2 separate regions of the Homo sapiens genome follow, and region 2 is linked to region 1. A link means that fine-mapping ties the variant in region 1 to the expression of a gene that starts in the linked region. Tissue or cell type: Th17 cells. Region 1 holds a variant in brackets; the other region holds the start of a gene. All regions are shown on one strand. Distances are from middle to middle.

The links. PIP is the estimated chance that this variant, and not a neighbour inherited with it, causes the effect.
Region 2: it holds the start of PPA1, and the variant in region 1 is fine-mapped to the expression of PPA1 in Th17 cells (Schmiedel 2018, PIP 0.95).

The regions. Positions count from the first base shown.
Region 1 is chr10:70,996,671-71,004,929 of GRCh38, forward strand. LOC105378350 (a long non-coding RNA gene) reads left to right here. Exons shown (of 3, transcript XR_001747493.2): 2 at 840-1,023; 3 at 2,339-2,475. LOC105378351 (a long non-coding RNA gene) reads right to left here. Exons shown (of 3, transcript XR_946048.4): 2 at 7,806-7,914; 3 at 6,445-7,100. Among named protein-coding and RNA genes, the nearest start is that of LINC02622, 62 kb to the left of the region's middle. The variant T/TTGTGTGTG (reference allele first, on the strand shown) is at 3,248.
Region 2 is chr10:70,230,198-70,238,197 of GRCh38, forward strand. PPA1 (inorganic pyrophosphatase 1) reads right to left here and starts at 3,232. Exons shown (of 11, transcript NM_021129.4): 1 at 3,067-3,232; 2 at 144-202. The coding sequence starts at 3,130. RefSeq lists a silencer at 2,874-3,443.

The DNA.
Region 1 (8,259 bases):
GATGGTTGTACCATGAACCTTGGGGACCTGGGGACCAGCCCAACTCAGCTGACCCTGCTGCAGGACTGTGGGCATGTCACCTCCTACTGCCAAGCTGGCTGTGGGCTGTGGCCCTTTGCTGCCCTCTTCACACTCAGGTGGGCTTCATGCCTTTAGCACTGCAGGAGGCCACTCTTGTCAGGTCCTTGGTTCCCCATGCTTTAGGATGTGACCTGCTTGACTTGTGCCCCTGAGGCACTGAGTCAGAGCCTCCTTCCCAGGGGAACAGGGACCTGAGAGGCACCCAGCTAAGTTCCCTGACTATGCATCCTCAGGGCACTTGGTGAAGGGAGGTAGTTGTACCAGCAGGTACTCAACAAATAATACTGTTCGCCTAATGAATGAAAAGGATGATAACAATGTCCAGTCAGGCATCCCAGCTCATGGAGATGTGAACATGAAGCGGCTAGTTTTCCCCCCAGTAACTGTCGATACCCTGTTAACACACCCACCCTGGAGGATCGAGCTCCATTAACCACAGCTTCCTGACTTGTTTATTAAGTAGTCTTACTCCCGTTCTCTAAAAGCCAGTTCTGTTTATTTAAATCCTGCAGGCTCCCATTTAATTCAAGGCTCTTGCTGTCCTACTCCCCATCTTTGACATCCAGGAGGGAAAACACTCCCCTCCTTTCTAGATTCCAGTCTCTTCTGATATTGGTGGGTGGTGGGGTTGGGCAGGATGGGGCAGGCAGTGGAGGGTTGGCTGCCTGGGCTTGTCTGGGAGGCCCTGTGGGGAGCTGGGCCCCACATTGGTGGTCCTGTGGACGTCCACGTGAGCCCTTGCTCTCCTCTCTTCCCAGCTGCAGCCTTGAACATCATCCTCTGGACAGCAGGATGCCCCTGTCCACTATCTCCATCCTGGCATCATCGTCATAAGAACCATCATTTACTGAGAGTGTACTATGTGCCAAGTGCTGTTCACACCTCAGTGCTCGTGCTGATGACAACCCTGTGAGCTAGTCCTAGTTTTTCCGCATTTCACAGGTGAGAAAATGCACACTTAGGAGGTGTAGCAACTTGCTCAAGGCCTCTCAGAAGCAGCATTTATACCCAGGCCTGCCCACTTCCAAGGCCCAAGCTCCACAAAGCCTCTGTGGCTGAGTGTGGGGCTGGTTCTCCATGTGGTGGGAGAGCTGGCTTTTATCAGGGGTCCCCCAGGAGCGTGCTCTACCCTCAAAGCCCCTCTTTCCCCAGGAGGGTCAGGAAAGAGGAATGTTGAGATGAGACTCCCTATACCCTGAAACCCCTAGGGCAAGGAGCAGGGTCTCTAGGTTCTGGGCTAGGAATACCACCAGCACATTTAGGCCAGAACAAGAAAGAATCTCCTGATCAATGGCTCTTGTTGGATTTGAGGAAGGGGGTCCAGGGGGCTTTCTGGGCCACGTCCATGATGCCCTGGGATCCTCGCTGTTGCTCCTCCTGGCCCAGGAACTCTCAGTGGGGCTGGGGCTGGGAGGCGTCCATGAATCAGGGGGCAGAGGAAAGGGAAAGCATGTGGAGGGGCCGGGAAGGAGTGCTGAGACCCACCTTATGGTATGGCACACTGCTTCCTTGCAGGCCTCGCCCCATTAGCTCAGGGTTAATTACACCAGCAGGACAGGGATGCTGTGGCAGGCAGGAAAGCTTTTCTGGGAGTGTCCCAGCCTCACAGTTGACATGTGCAAGCCGCACTCGTGTCTCCTGACCAGGATACCTTTGTTATGGTGAGGCAGGGAGAACGAGACCATTTTTCAAATCAGACGGGGGTCCCTCCTCCAGGGACTTCAGAAACACCCCCTATGCCTACCACAGGGCCCAGCTCAGACCCTCTGCTCAGACCCTGGCTACCCTCCCCCATCCCTAAACCACTCATGGGACCTCTTTGCACAGAGGTATTATGGTCACAGGGATGGGTGGACCCAGGAATGGATGGGTTCACTCTTTGGGCCCAGCCTTTGCCTGTACTGAAAACATCCAGTTTGAGTTCTGCCTGCACACCTTGAAGCAGGTAATGCTATCAGACACCTCAGGTCACTCAGCCATACCTCTCCCTCCTGGGCTGACCAGCTCTACACAGGCTGGTAGCCTCCTGATATAGTTTGGAGGCTTGGCCCTTCCAAATCTCACGTTGAACTGTGATCCCCAAATGTTGGAGGTGGGTTTAGTGGGAGGTGTTTGGGTCATGGGGGTGGATCCCACATGAATGGCTTGGTGCCCTCCCCTCGGTAATGAAGGAGTTCTTGCTCTATTAGTTAACCCGAGAGCTGGTTGTTAAAAAAGCAATGTGGCACCTCCTTCCTCTCTCTTGCTCCCCCTCTAGCCATGTGATGCCATCTCCTCTTCATCCTCTGCCATAAGTAAAAACTCGCTGAGGCCTCACTAGATGCAGATGCTGGTGCCATGCTTCTTGTACAGCCTGCGGAACCATAAACCAAATAAACTCCTTTTTAAAATAAATTACCCAGCCTCAGGTATTCCTTTATAGCAACACAAAACAGACTGATAGACCTCCCTCAGGTGCAACCTGACAGTGACTCACCTTACTCCAGGTGCGAATGAGGCCCCCTTGTCATGACGTGAGACATCTGCAGGAATCTAGGTGGCACTTCTGCATGTGCAAATCGGAAATGTGTCAATATGTGTGCAGACACCTGTGTGTGTGTGCACGTCTCTCATGTCTCCCTCTGTCTCTGTGTGTGTGCATATGTCTCTCCTGTCTCTGTCTCTGTGTGTGTGCACATGTCTCTCATGTCTCCCTCTGTCTCTGTGTGTGTGTGTGCATATGTCTCTCCTGTCTCTGTCTCTGTGTGTGTGCACATGTCTCTCATGTCTCCCTCCATCTCTGTGTGTGAATATGTCTCTCCTGTCTCTGTCTCTGTGTGTGTGCACATCTCTCATGTCTCTGTGTGTGTGTACATATCTCTTGTGTCTCCCTATGTCTCTGTGTGTGTGCACATGCCTCTTGTGTCTTCCTCTGTCTCTGTGTGTGTGCACATCTCTCGTGTCTGTGTGTGTGTGCACGCATGTCTCTCGTGCCTCTCTGTGTCTCTGTGTGTGTGTGCACATGTCTCTCCTGTCTCTGTCTCTGTGTGTCTGCACATGTCTCTCGTGTCTCTGTCTCTGTGTGTGTGCACATGTCTCTTATGTCTCTCTCCGTCTCTGCATAGGTGTGTGCGTGCATGTCTCTTGTGTCTCCCTCTGTCTCTGTATGTGTGTGTGCACATGCCTC[T/TTGTGTGTG]TGTGTGTGTGTGTGTGTGTGTGTGTGTGTGTGTAGAGGGCAGTTAATGCCCACAGGCAACCTTTGACCAATGGGAGATGAAAACTAATGAATAAATACTTCCTGTGTTTATTGCCCTCGGGGCCTGTCTTAGTTCAGGCTGCTATAACAAAATACCTTAGGCTAGGTAATTTACAAGAGAAAGTTATCGTTCACAGTTCTGGAGGCTGGGAAGTCCAAGATCAAGTGTGCCAACAGAATCAGTGTCGTGGCAAGGGCTTGGTCTCTGCTTCAAAGATGACGCCTGTTGCTGTGTCCTCATATGGCAGATGGGGTAAATGAGCTCCCTCAAGCTTTTATTAGGGCACTAATTTCATTTATGAGGGGTGGGGAAGCCCTCATGACCTAATCACCTCTCAAAGGTCCCCCTTCTTTTTTTTTTTTTTTTTTTTTTTTGAGACAGAGTCTTGCTCTGTCACCCAGGCTGGAGTGCAGTGGTGCAATCTTGGCTCACTGCAAACTCCTGGGTTCATGCCATTCTCCTGCCTCAGCCTCCCGAGTAGCTGGGATTACAGGATCCCGCCACCACGCCTGGCTAATTTTTTGTATTTTTAGTAGAGGCAGGGTTTCACTGTGTTAGCCAGGATTGTCTCAATCTCCTGACCTCGTGATCTTTCTGCCTCGGCCTCCCAAAGTCCTGGGATTACAGGTGTGAGCCACCGCGCCCGGCCTAAGGTCCCCCTTCTTAATACCACCACCTTGGATGGTAGGTTTCAACATATGAATTTTGTGTGCGGGGGGACAAAAACGTTTAAACCATAGTATTCCTCCCTTGCTCCCCCAAAATTCACGTCCCTCTCACAGGCAAAATACATTCATTCCATCCCAGTAGCCCCACAAACAATAACTCATTTCAGCATCAGCTCAGAAGTCTAAAGTCCAGAGTCTTATCTAAATATCATCTAAATCAGATATGGCTGAGACTTAAGGTACCTCCATCCTGAAGCAAATTGCTTTCCAGCTGTGAACCTGTGAAATTAAACAATTTATGTGCTTTCAAAATGCAACAGTGGGACAGGCATAGGATAGACATGTCCATTACAAAAAAGAGAAGTAAGAAGAAAGAGGTAACTGGTCCCAAGTAAGTCCAAAACCCAACAGGGAAAACAACATTAAATCTTAAAGCCTGCAAATAATGTCTTAGACTTGTTGTCCTACTTCTGGACAAACTGTGGTAGGGGTTGGCTCACGTGGCTTTGGGTGGCCGTGCTCCCATGGCTGTGCTAAGCACAGCCCACACTGCAGCCCTAATGGGTTGGAATCACATGTATGTGGTTCTCCCAAGGTAGAATTACCTGCTGGTGGCTCTACTGGCCTGTAGTCTAAGGGGCAGCTCTAGCTCTGCCCCTGTGGGTCCACTGGACATCACTCTAGTGGAGGATCTCTGTGGTGGCCCCACCCCTGTGGCAGTTCTTGGGCTGGGACCTGAGGTTCTCCAGGGCATCCCTTGAAATCTAGGTGGAGGTAGCCATGTCCCCACAACTTGTTCACTCTGCACACTCCTGGAGTTGGCACTGTGTTGATGCCACCATGGTTCCTCATCTGTGCCTACCTGATAGTTGGCCCAAGCCACACCTGAGCTCTCTTGAGCCACAGCTGGGTGACCAAGGAGCATTGTACAAGAATTTGGGGAGAAGAGCTTTGAAACCATTCTGCCCCCGATGCCCGGGCATTCTGGTAAAGGGAGTGGCAGTCTTGAAGACTGCCAAAATATTTTGGGGATTATTCATCCATTGTCTTGATGAATAGCATCTGGCCAACCTTCACTTGGCCACACACTGTTGGTGTTATCTCTCAAACACACTTTTACATTCTTTACAACCTGGCCAGGCTAAGAATTTTCCAAATCTTTAAGTTCTGCTTCCCTTTTGACTATAAATTGCATCTTTAATTAATTTATATCTTCTTGTGTTTTTACCACAGTCAAGAGAAGCCATGCCACATCCTCAATAACTTTGTTTAGAGATTTCTTCCACTGAATGTCTTGTTTCATTGCTCAGAAGTTCTAGCTTCCACAAAGCACTAGGACAGGAACACAATACTACCAAATTCTTTGCCATTTTATAACAAGGATCACTTTTCCTCCAGTTTCCAATAACATATTCCTCATTTCTATCTGAGACTTCATCAGAATGGCCATTACCATCCATATTTCTATGAACATTCTATTAATGATCACTTAGCTCCTTTCTAAGAAGACTGGGTAAGTGACAAATAGCTTAGCTGATTGGTCAAGATCACAGAAGGGAGCAAGACTGGATGACTGGATACAAGGAAGGCTGGAGAAAGCCTATGGATGGGCCAATGGGAATGAGCCCAAAGTGTGTGGATCTTTGAGTCTCACATTGTTGAGGGCCTTCAACAATGTGGGCCTTCTACAAGGGCCCTCAACAATCCGGTGAACAGGATGACTGGTTCTATGGAGGAGTTCCTCTTCATGGCCACTCCAGGGAGATTACTAATTTTAGGCATGGGCCCAGGGCTAGCAGCCTACATCTGGAAGAGTCTGGGGACCAGGGAGAATAGAATAGATGCATTTCCTTGAGAGTAGGATGTAGGGGGGTAAACTGAATTCACCCCCAAGGCATCTCTCCCCATCTCACCAATTCCACCCTAGCTGTAAACACAGCCCTAGCGGACTGGTTTGGCCCCTGCTTTAGGGAGAGCTCTTTTCTACCCAACATAAAACTTACTCTTGCCAGCCCAGACTCCCAAAGTCCTGCCATAGTCCAGAAAGCCCTCAGTGATCCTCTCCTTCTTGGCCATGTGCTATTCATTCATTCACTCATTCATTCATTCATTCATGTACACAACAGATACTTATCAAGCTTCCGTGCTCCACACCCTACATAAAGGCTCTGAATATGCAGGAGCGAATGAAAATGGTTGTGACCCTACCCTTGTGGAGATTATTATAGTCTTTGGGGAGAGGTAGACATTAATCAAATGATCACACAAATAAATATAAAATTACCCTTGGGATTAGTGCTAGGAAGAATTCCATGATTCTCTGAGGACAGATACTATGTGGGACTCCCCTAGCTTGGAACGTCAGGGAAGGTTTCCTTGAGGAGGTGATGACTCAGCCACCTTCTGAAGGATGGGTAGGTTGTATTAGTTAGGGTTCTCTAAAGGGACAGTGCTAACAGGATAGATGTATAGATGAAGGGGAGTTTATTACGGAGTATTGACTCACATGATCACAAGGTGAGGTCCTACAATAGGCCATCTGCAAGCTGAGGTGCAAGAAAGCCAGTCCGAATCCCAAAACCCCAAAAGTAGGGAAGCCAACAGTGCAGCCTTCAGTCTGTGGTCGAAGGTCCAAGAGTCCCAAAGCTGAAGAACTTGGAGTCTGATGTTCGCGGGCAGGAAGCATCCAGTACGGGAGAAAGATGTAGGCTGGAAGACTAAACCAGTCTAGAATTTCCACGTTCTTCTACCTGCTTTTATTCTGGCCACTCTGGCAGCTGATTAGATTGTGCCCACCCAGACTGGGGGTGGGTCTGCCTTTCCCAGTCCACTGACTCAAAGGTTAATCTCCTTTGGCAACACCCTCACAGACACACCCAGGAACAATACTTTGCATCCTTCAATCCAGTCAAGTTGACACTCAATAGTAACCATCACAGGGGTACCCAGGTGAAGTGGGGGAGGCAAAGAAAGAGATCTCGGTCCCAGATCTCTGCACCTGGATGCACTCCCTCTTGAAACTGCTTCTCACTGCTTCCAGGCCTGTGTCCTGTGGCCCCCATGCCTCATCAGGAAACTGGGCTCAGAGAAGTTAGCACGTGGGGGGGTCACGATGAGATGGTCCCTGATGGAAAGTAAAATTTCTCTAATGGCAAAGATCATGGAAACAGAGACCCAGCAGCAGAAAACTGAAGGTAATACAGCCTCTTCCCAGAAAGAGGGCCCCCAAGGGACCCTGAGTTACCCACACAAGGGTCGTTTCCACACGGGGAGGCTTCTCCGACATGAGTGGCTCCTTCTGCTATTCTTACAACAGTGGTCCCATCTCTCTCTCTCACTCCGATCGCTCCAGATGGTTCCAAAGGCTTTCCCCGTGGGCCTGACTACTTTACTGGTGCTAGTTAGTGATCTCCCACACTTTCCTGAGGACTGTTTTCTAGGAGCGCCCTTCAGGGAGCTTGGCCTGTGTCCTCCTGTTGGGGAAGCAGGAGCTGTGATTTGCCCCCAAGCCCAGCTGGCTGCGGAGCCCATGGTGCTCCCTTCCAGGTCCCTGCCGCATGCTGTGTGGACAGGCAGCATCTGGGTCCTGGCCATCCCCTGGTCCTGCCTCTGCCACTGTCTTGCTCTGTGACCTGGAGCCAGACCTGCCCCTTTCATGGCCCCATGAGGAGAAAGCCAGTCCTGTTTCTCACTGTTGCCAGGTCTGCGTGTATTTGGGTCTGAAAGACAGACAAGACGAGGGGGACCATGTATCAGGAGTAGGGTAGTTCTCAGCCAGGCAGGCTCCTGCTCTGCCGGCAGCAAGGTGGCCGTCCTGCAGGGAACCTACCTTGGGGAGGGCAGCCTTGCCCCTTCCCCAGCAGCCCCAGATGGAGCACCTGTCACAGCCAGACCAGTGTTCATCCACCTCTCAAAACTCCGGGCTGTCCCCACCTGACCTGGAAAGGGTCAAGATGAGAGACCTGAGAAGAAAGGAGAGGTTTCTCTTTGTGCTCACTCTCCCTAAGGAGAAAAGCTTAAAGCTGGGAGGCAGATGGCGCCTCCTCTCTCCTCTGTGAGCTGAGAGCCCAGATCCTCTGCCCACTGGCTCTGCCTCTACTCACCCATTGGTCTTAGCTGCCCTCTCCCAAGCCCATCCCTGTGTGGCCCCCCTGTTTGGCCAGTCCCAGGAGATCCTAGGGTCCCAGGTGGAGGCTGACTGGCATCCCCACAGCCCTGCCTTTGTGTGCACCTTCATGCCCATCCTGGGCCCGTGGCTGTGGCTGGGGCCTTACCCTCTTGAC
Region 2 (8,000 bases), 770 kb before region 1:
CACGCCCAGCCTAATCAACAGACCTTTAGCTCACAGCACAACGAGGCATTTTAAGCACTTGTTGAGAGACATATAAGAAAATTCATATGTAGAACTAGCTGATCTGAGTAAAGAGACTGTGTCCAAAAACAAGGATGCCTTACCTTATCTGCATAAATTGGAATATCATGAAATGGAGATATATATTGTCCTTTCTCATTTTCTGCAAAATAAATTAGAAAAAGTTATTACTATAATTAATTGTATTGCTAAATGCCCACAGTACACATTTTTTTTTTCTGAGATAAGGTCCCTTACTCTGTCACCCAGGATGGTGTGCAATGGTGTGATCTTGGCTCACTGCCACTTCTGTTTCCCTCTTGAAGGCTCAAGTGATCCTCCAGCCTCAGCCTCCTGAGCCGCTGGAACTACAGGCATGAGCCACTACGTCTGGCTAATTTTTGTGTCTTTTGTAGGGAGGTGGTGTTGCCATGTTCCCCAGGCTGGTCTCCAACTCCTGAGCTCAAAGCAGTCTGCCCACCTCAGCCTCCCAAAGGGCTGGAATTACAGGGGTGAGCCACCGCACCCTGCACCCGACCAGTACACATTTTTAAACCAAGATATTATTCTTACACTAGAAAAACTGTTTGTATACTTCACTTCTCCTGACTGTACTCCCAGGCTAGGCTGGGTTTACATCCTATGCACTCTGTAGGCATCTAATAAGTACTAATCTCTATAGTGAGAGCAGAGACTACTGAGGACACAAAAGGCGATTAAATTGTTTTGGACTGATCTTACATCAGTTAAGTTTACAGAACCATTATGAAGTACTTGGGAGGAAGGGAGGGGACCACTTTACTAAACAATGTTGCTAAAAGTGGTGTTCCCAGAGACAGCCAGCCATCTTAGATTATGACTTTCTTTAAGGATAATCAAGTTGCAACAAACATCTTCACAAATAATTTCTATTATATTCTAGATATATATTACTAATATATTCTAGAGGCCTAACTATAGCCAAAAAGTAATTTTAAAACTTCTTCAGTATTCTTTAGGAAACCTACTGTCCACATCGCATCCCTTCAAGTTTAAAAATCAAAGTGGAGGCCAGGCACGGTGGCTCACGCCTGTAATCCCAGCACTTTGGAAGGCCAAAGCAGGTGGATCACTGGAGGTAAGGAGTTCAAGACCAGCCTGGCCAACATGGTGAAACCCCGTCTCTACTAAAAATACAAAAATTAGTCAGGCATGGTGGCAAGTGCCTGTAATCCCAGCTACTTGGGAGGCTGAGGCAGGAGAATCACTTGAACCCGGGAGGCTGAAGTTGCAATGAGCCAAGATCATGCCACTGCACTCCAGCCTGGGCAACAGAGCGAGACTTTGTTTCAAAAAACAAACAATAAAACATAAAAGTCCCTTTAGGGCCAATTGTGACTTTGCAGTCTGTCCAGCCCTTTATCAGTTTTAAAGAAATTGACAAATGTAATATTATAAAGCTTAAAAAAGTTTATTTCTATTAAGGAAGGATAAAGCACTTAAAATTGGATAACTATGTAGTGGGTTCTAATTATTAGTATTTCTTAAGTTCCAGAGAGTTCCACTTGATAAAAACAGTTACTTCAGCTAGTGCCAAATTCTAGGAGTAGCTTTGGTCTCCCATAACGGCCACCAAATATTAATTGCAAATAAATAACCTAAGTAAAAGCAGTGTGTTTGTTCTGCATATATAGCTTGAAGATCCACCCCTCACCTTCAAACCAGACAGTCACCTCTGTAAGCCTTTCCTACAGAGAAATTCTGGAGCCAACACTATTTCCAGAAAAACAGTCCCATGAATTATTAGTCAAAAGTTACTGGACTGTCCTTGCTGCTTAATTGCAAAATTAAATAAAATGGAGAGTGGGGGGTAGTTCTCACCCTTCCTGGATTTTACCTGATAGTTAACCTTTGGCTAGATGTGTAAGCTTTACAGTTCGCTTTCCTTTTCCTCCCGCACCAGGCTACTTTTTGTTCCTTCAATGCCTATTCATTCGTCTCCTCTACTCCCCGCTTCCCCTTCCTTCATACACCAACTCAGAGTTCGAGGCACCTGCCCATTTCCTTCCAAATAAAACTGTAAAGAGGTTACAATAGAAGCGCCTGTGGTGACACATTTACGAACGCCTCCGTTATCGCCCATAATCTACTCCTAGTAGCTGGGGGTGGGGGGAGTAAGAGGATAAAGAAAAACCCCAAGTAGCTTTCCTCCACCTACAAGGCCAAAAAAACGTGGTGCCCTAAGGAGCGTGGAGGGCGCCAGCATGCAGCCTCCCGGTTTCCCCGTGCAGCCCTAGGTGCAGGACCCGGGGTAGGTACCCCCTAGACGCCGAATCCTGCAAAGGTAAAAACTTGGCACTTTCTCAGTCTTGTTTCCAGACTGACGTCATCTGTTTGATTTGAGGGAAACAGCTTTCTGTTTCATAAGGAGCATTCCCAGCATCGGCGCTGAGGGAAAACAGGCGGCGCAGAGGCAGGAGCACGACCGGGCCGCGGAGGACCGGTCCAGCGCCTTCACAGACGGCTCCCGATCCGGGCCTCAGTTTTCCCGTCTGTAAAACGAGGGGGTGGACTTGGCTCCGCTCAGCGCCGATAATCTGAGCTACGGCGGCGGAATTAAGGTCTTTAGGAAGTCACTGCCCCCCCCGGCCCGGAGTCGCCTTTTCTCCAAACTGAGCAATCCTCTTACGGGAATTATGTTACTTCCAAGCACCTTTCTAGGGTGGGTCGGTGATTTCCTTTTCCCAACAGACCCTGTCAGAGCCAGACACCTGCAAAACTAGCTGGGCCCAGGTTCGGGTACCCCGAGGCGTGACAAAGGGACCATCTCCGTTCAGCGGGGAGGGATGGCCGGAGGCGACCCTCGCCGCCCCGACCGGCGGCGGCAAGTATGCAATGTGAGGCCGGCCAGGCCCCACAACGCGCCCGAGGAGACGGGCCCGCGTCGGAGACCTGGGGCCGAGCGCGGGCCGCACCCTCCCGGGGAGGCAAGGCCCGGGAATGAATGGGCGGACGGGCGCGGAGGGGCCACGGGCCGCAGACACTCACTGAGGAAGACTCGGTACTCCAGGGAGAAGGGCGCGGCGCGCTCCTCGGTGCTGAAGCCGCTCATAGTGCCGGAGTCCTGCCGCCGCCGCTGCCACAGAGCCACCAGCCCGCACGCGGCGCCGACTGACAAGGAGAGAGCCCCACGCCTGCGCACTGCGAGCACTGGACCGGCGGGCGGGGCGGGGAGCGCCTTTAACGCGGCTCTGCTAGTGTTCCCACCCCCGCCGGGCCAACCCCGTGCGCAGGCGCACTCCGCCAGGCCCGGGTGTCCGCACTCCCCAGCCCCGCCCCTCGGGCCCAGCCTCCGCGATGGCAGCTAGGGCTCAGAGGCTGGGCCACGTGGCTGCCGCCGGCGCTGGTTCTGTTCCTTCGGCTTTGGGCTCTGACCCGGGAGGGCAAATGCGCAGGCTCTAAGCTTGGACTAGCTAGGAGTTGACCGCCGACCACGCACACAGGGAACTCACCTTTGATTCTCACACACTCCTCCCCGCAGTCCTATTCCTTATCTCAAAAGGCGTTGATAAGTCACCTGCTTCCCCAGACAGGCTCTGCTTGCGGTCTTAAAGGTGAGCATTTTTCTGATCCGTCGTAACAAAGTTGAGCCATATTACTGACACCCCTAGTGGCTACTAGTAAGGTACTCGCTTCTCCACTTTCTATAATCTCTCTCACTCCGTTGCTTATCTGGGAAGTGAAGATAATAATATAACTATTTCATGAGTTACTGGGATGATTACCCGAGTTAATACACGTCAAATGCCTGAAGCAGAGCCTGTATCTTTGTAAACAATCTGGAAGTTGTTACTGTCACCCTCCCCAGTGGGGGAGGATTTACGCCCCCGCGCCCCCCGCCCCCTCCATCCCCCCTGCCACCCTACTTAACCCACCTGGGTCTCCAGGGGCTTCAGATGGAAGCACTGGGAAGGTCCAGGCGTGAGCTAGAGTCCCGTGAAGGAGTGTTCTCAGGGACAGGCTCTTCTGATCTTGATTTCCTGTTTATATTCCATCATATCAGGCCAGACCCCAAAAACTAAAGTCTGATTGAGGCAGTGGGAAAATATTTGCATCACTTACCTCCCCAGGAATACATGTAAAAGAAAAAAAGTATATCCACAATCCTAAATATAAATTAGCAAATTATTATTCACATTTCAAAGAATGCCTGGTTTTATTTATTTATTTATTTTAATTTCATGGCCAGGATTTCTTTAAATAACTTTTTCTAGAACATTAAAGATAATGTGCCTTAATGACATTTTGAATTAAACCCTTTTTTCCAAACAATGTCTATTGTAAAAAATGAATATTAAATGAAAACCTAGTAAGATCTCCAGTTAGTTATGGTGTCGCTCCCTTTGTCTCCATCCAACTCCCAAACCTCACTGACACCCATTAATTTTCAGAAGGCTGTGATTCACTGATTTTTTGAACATTTCACCACACTGTTTTACTGCTGTTAAAACAGAAGGGCAGGAAAAAAAATTAGCGAAGCAATAGTTTAGTCAATAATTAGGGTCAAGGCCAGGCGCGGTGACTTACGCCTTCAATCCCAGCACTTTGGGAGGCCGAGGTGGGCGGATTACCCGACGTCAGGAGTTGGAAACCAGCCTGGCCAACACAGTGAAACCCTGTCCCTAGTAAAAATACAAAAATTAGCTGGGCGTGGTTGCACGCGCCTGTAATCCCAGCTACTCGGGAGACTGAGGCAGGAGAACACTTGATCCCGAGAGGCGGAGGTTGCGGTGAGTTGAGATCACGCCAGTGCATTCCAGCCTGGGTGACAGAGCGAGACTCTGTTTCAGAAAAAAAAGTAGGATCAAGTTCAAAGAATATTTTAAGGGGATGCTCTTTTGATTGAACTGCTCTATCACTTTTCTGCCTTTGAGCAGATGGAACCAATTTTCTTGGAAAAACCCAGACTCTCATCTGTGACTGACTTAAGAAGACAGCAGTGATGCAATAATAATGTTCTACATACACTTTCCCTTTGCCTCCTGCCAGCTCAGAGCAAGATAATAAAGTCTCACTGACCTCCAGACTTGCACACTGGCTCTTGTTTCATCGAATGTATTCAGAGAGCCAGTCATTATCAGGTCTGGTAAAACACCCAGCCCTGGTGAATTGTAACTTTCCTTTGCAGGCAAGTGTAGTGAGCCCATAGGCCCAAAAGGACCTTGGTCTACCATGTCTCCCTAGGGCCTAGCACAGTACACAGCCTAGAGTAGATGTTTAGTGAATCTTTGCTGGACGGATAGGTAGAGGAATTAATGTAAAGGTGGAAAATACCTTCTTAAGTACATTAGTTTGACAAAGAAGGAGTCCATCTCTTCTCAAATATTATCTTTCTCACTCAGTGACCAAATCTAGTGGCACTTTTCAGTCCATATCCTGTCCCCTTTGCTGTGGGTGACCCTGTTGGGTGTCTCTAATTTCCTTCTTTGGCTTGCGACTACATTCTCTTCTTTTTTTTTTTTTTCTTTTTTGAGACAGAGTCTCACTCTGTCACCCAGGCTGGAGTACAGTGGTGTGATTTCGGCTCACTGCAACCTCCACCTCCCAGGTTCAAGTGATTCTTGTACCTCAGCCTCCTGAGTAGCTGGGATCACAGGCATGCACCACCATGCCTGGCTAATTTTAGTATTTTTAGTAGAGATGTGTTTTCATCATGTTGGCCAGGCTAGCCTCGAACTCCTGGCCTCAAATGATCTGCCCACCTCAGCCTCCCAGAGTGTTGGGATTACAGGCGTGAGACACGGTGCCAGGCCACGACTACATTCTCTTCTCGTGTTCTTCCTACTTCTTTTTTTTTTTTTTTTGAGATGGGGTCTCGCTCTGTCGCCCAGGCTGGAGTGCGGTGGTGCGATCTCGGCTCACTGCAACCTCCGCCTCTCGGGTTCAAGCAATTCTCCCGCCTCAGCCTCCAGAGTAGCTGGGATTACAGGCGCCTGCCACCACGCCCAGCTAATTTTTTGTACCTTTAGTAGAGACCGGGTTTCACCATGTTGGCCAAACTGGTCTCGAAGCCCTGACCTCGTGATCTGCCTGCCTCGGCCTCCCAAAGTGCTGGGATTACAGGCATGAGCCACCACGCCCGGCCCATTCCTACTTCTTTGCTACTCATTTCTCATTCTCCTTCTCAGCCTTCATTTCATCATCTTAATCATCATTGTCTTTCTTATTTCTCATGTTCTCTCTCTCTCTCTAGAGCAATACTCTTTGTCTAGATTATCTCATGTATATCTCTGGCGTCAGCTACCACCTAGAGGTCCTATAACATGAAAACTTTCAAATCTATAACTAACTCTTATTTAACACTTACTGTGGTCATGCTCTGTGATAGGTGGGTAGGGATGTAGCCCTACTAGGCCTTATAGTCAGAACTTATAGTCTAGAAGAAAGACAGACTTCAACAAATAATTATAATAAATTTGGGTGAGTAGAATGATATAGGAAGTACAGGGCATTACATTATGGGAGCAGAAAACCTCTTCAAGGAAGTGACCTGTAACCTGCAATCTGAATGATGACATGGAATTAATAAGGCAAAGGGGACAAGGCAAAAGCCAGAAAACGGTTAGGTGAGACTAGGCCGGGCGCGGTGGCTCATGCCTGTAATCCCAACACTTTGGGAGGCCAAGGCCGGCGGATCACGAGCTCAGGAGTTCGAGACCAGCCTGACCAACATGGTGAAACCCGTCTCTATTTAAAAATATACAAAAATAAGCTGGATGTGGTGGCACGCACCTGTAATCCCAGCTACTCAGGAGGCTGAGGCAGGAGAATCTCTTGAACCCAGAAGGCAGAGGTTGCAGTGAGCTGAGATCACACCACTGCACTCCAGCCTGGCAACAAAGCAAGACTCCGTCTCAAAAAAAAAAAAAAAAAAAAAAGAAAGCGGTGAGACTAGAGAAATAGTCAGGGCCAAAAGCTAGAAAGCCTTGGAAGGCACGATATGAGGATTGAACTTTCTCCTAAGAGCAATGGGAAACTTAAGAAGGGTTTTTAATGGGAAAATAACATGATCAGAATTGCATTAAGAAAAGGTACTATCAGCAGCTTAGAACTTGGATTGAGGTTTAGTAAGACTAGAGGCAGGGAGACCAATGCAGTCCACTGCAGGGCCCCAGATGAAAGGTGATGGTGGTTTCCTGAACTTGGGCGGCAAAAGAGAAGGCTGATTACAGAGCTGTGTTCAAGGTAGAATCAATGGAATTATTGATTGAATAGTGTGGAAGAGGAGAGAGGTGGAGATCTGAGGATGAGTCCCAGGTTTCTGGCTACAAGAACTGGTTGAGTTGAATGGTATGTCATTTACTGAGAGAGAGTGGGTGAGATGGAGGGTATTAATACCAAACACTCCTAGCTCCCTGCCCAATGGCCATATTACCTTCTCTTTTCTAACAGAATCCTGATTTTGTTCAAGAGACTGGATGTGGTGGTTCATGCCTGTAATCCCAGCACTTTAGGAGGCTGAGGAGGACGGATCACCTGAGGTCAGGAGTTCAAGACTAACCTGGCCAACATGGTGAAACCCCGTCTCTACTAAAAATACAAAAATCAGCTGGGCGTGTTGGCACGTGTCTGTAATCCCAGCTACTCAGGAGGGTGAGACAGGAGAATCGCTTAAACCCAGGAGGCAGAGGTTGCAGTGAGCCAAGATCACGCCATTGCACTTCAGCCTGAGCAACAAGAGCAAAACCTCTGTCTCAAAAAATAAATTAAATAAAATAAAAAGAAGCCACTCTCCTGCGCACACCTTTGCCTCAGGGCAGCCAGCCCTTCCTTCATCTTCATGAAATGAAGTTTTTTTTGTTTGTTTGTTTTAGTATTTATTGATCATTCTTGGGTGTTTCTCAGAGAGGGGGATGTGGCAGGGTCATAGGATAATAGTGGAGAGAAGGACAGCCGATAAACACATGAACAAAGGTCTCTAG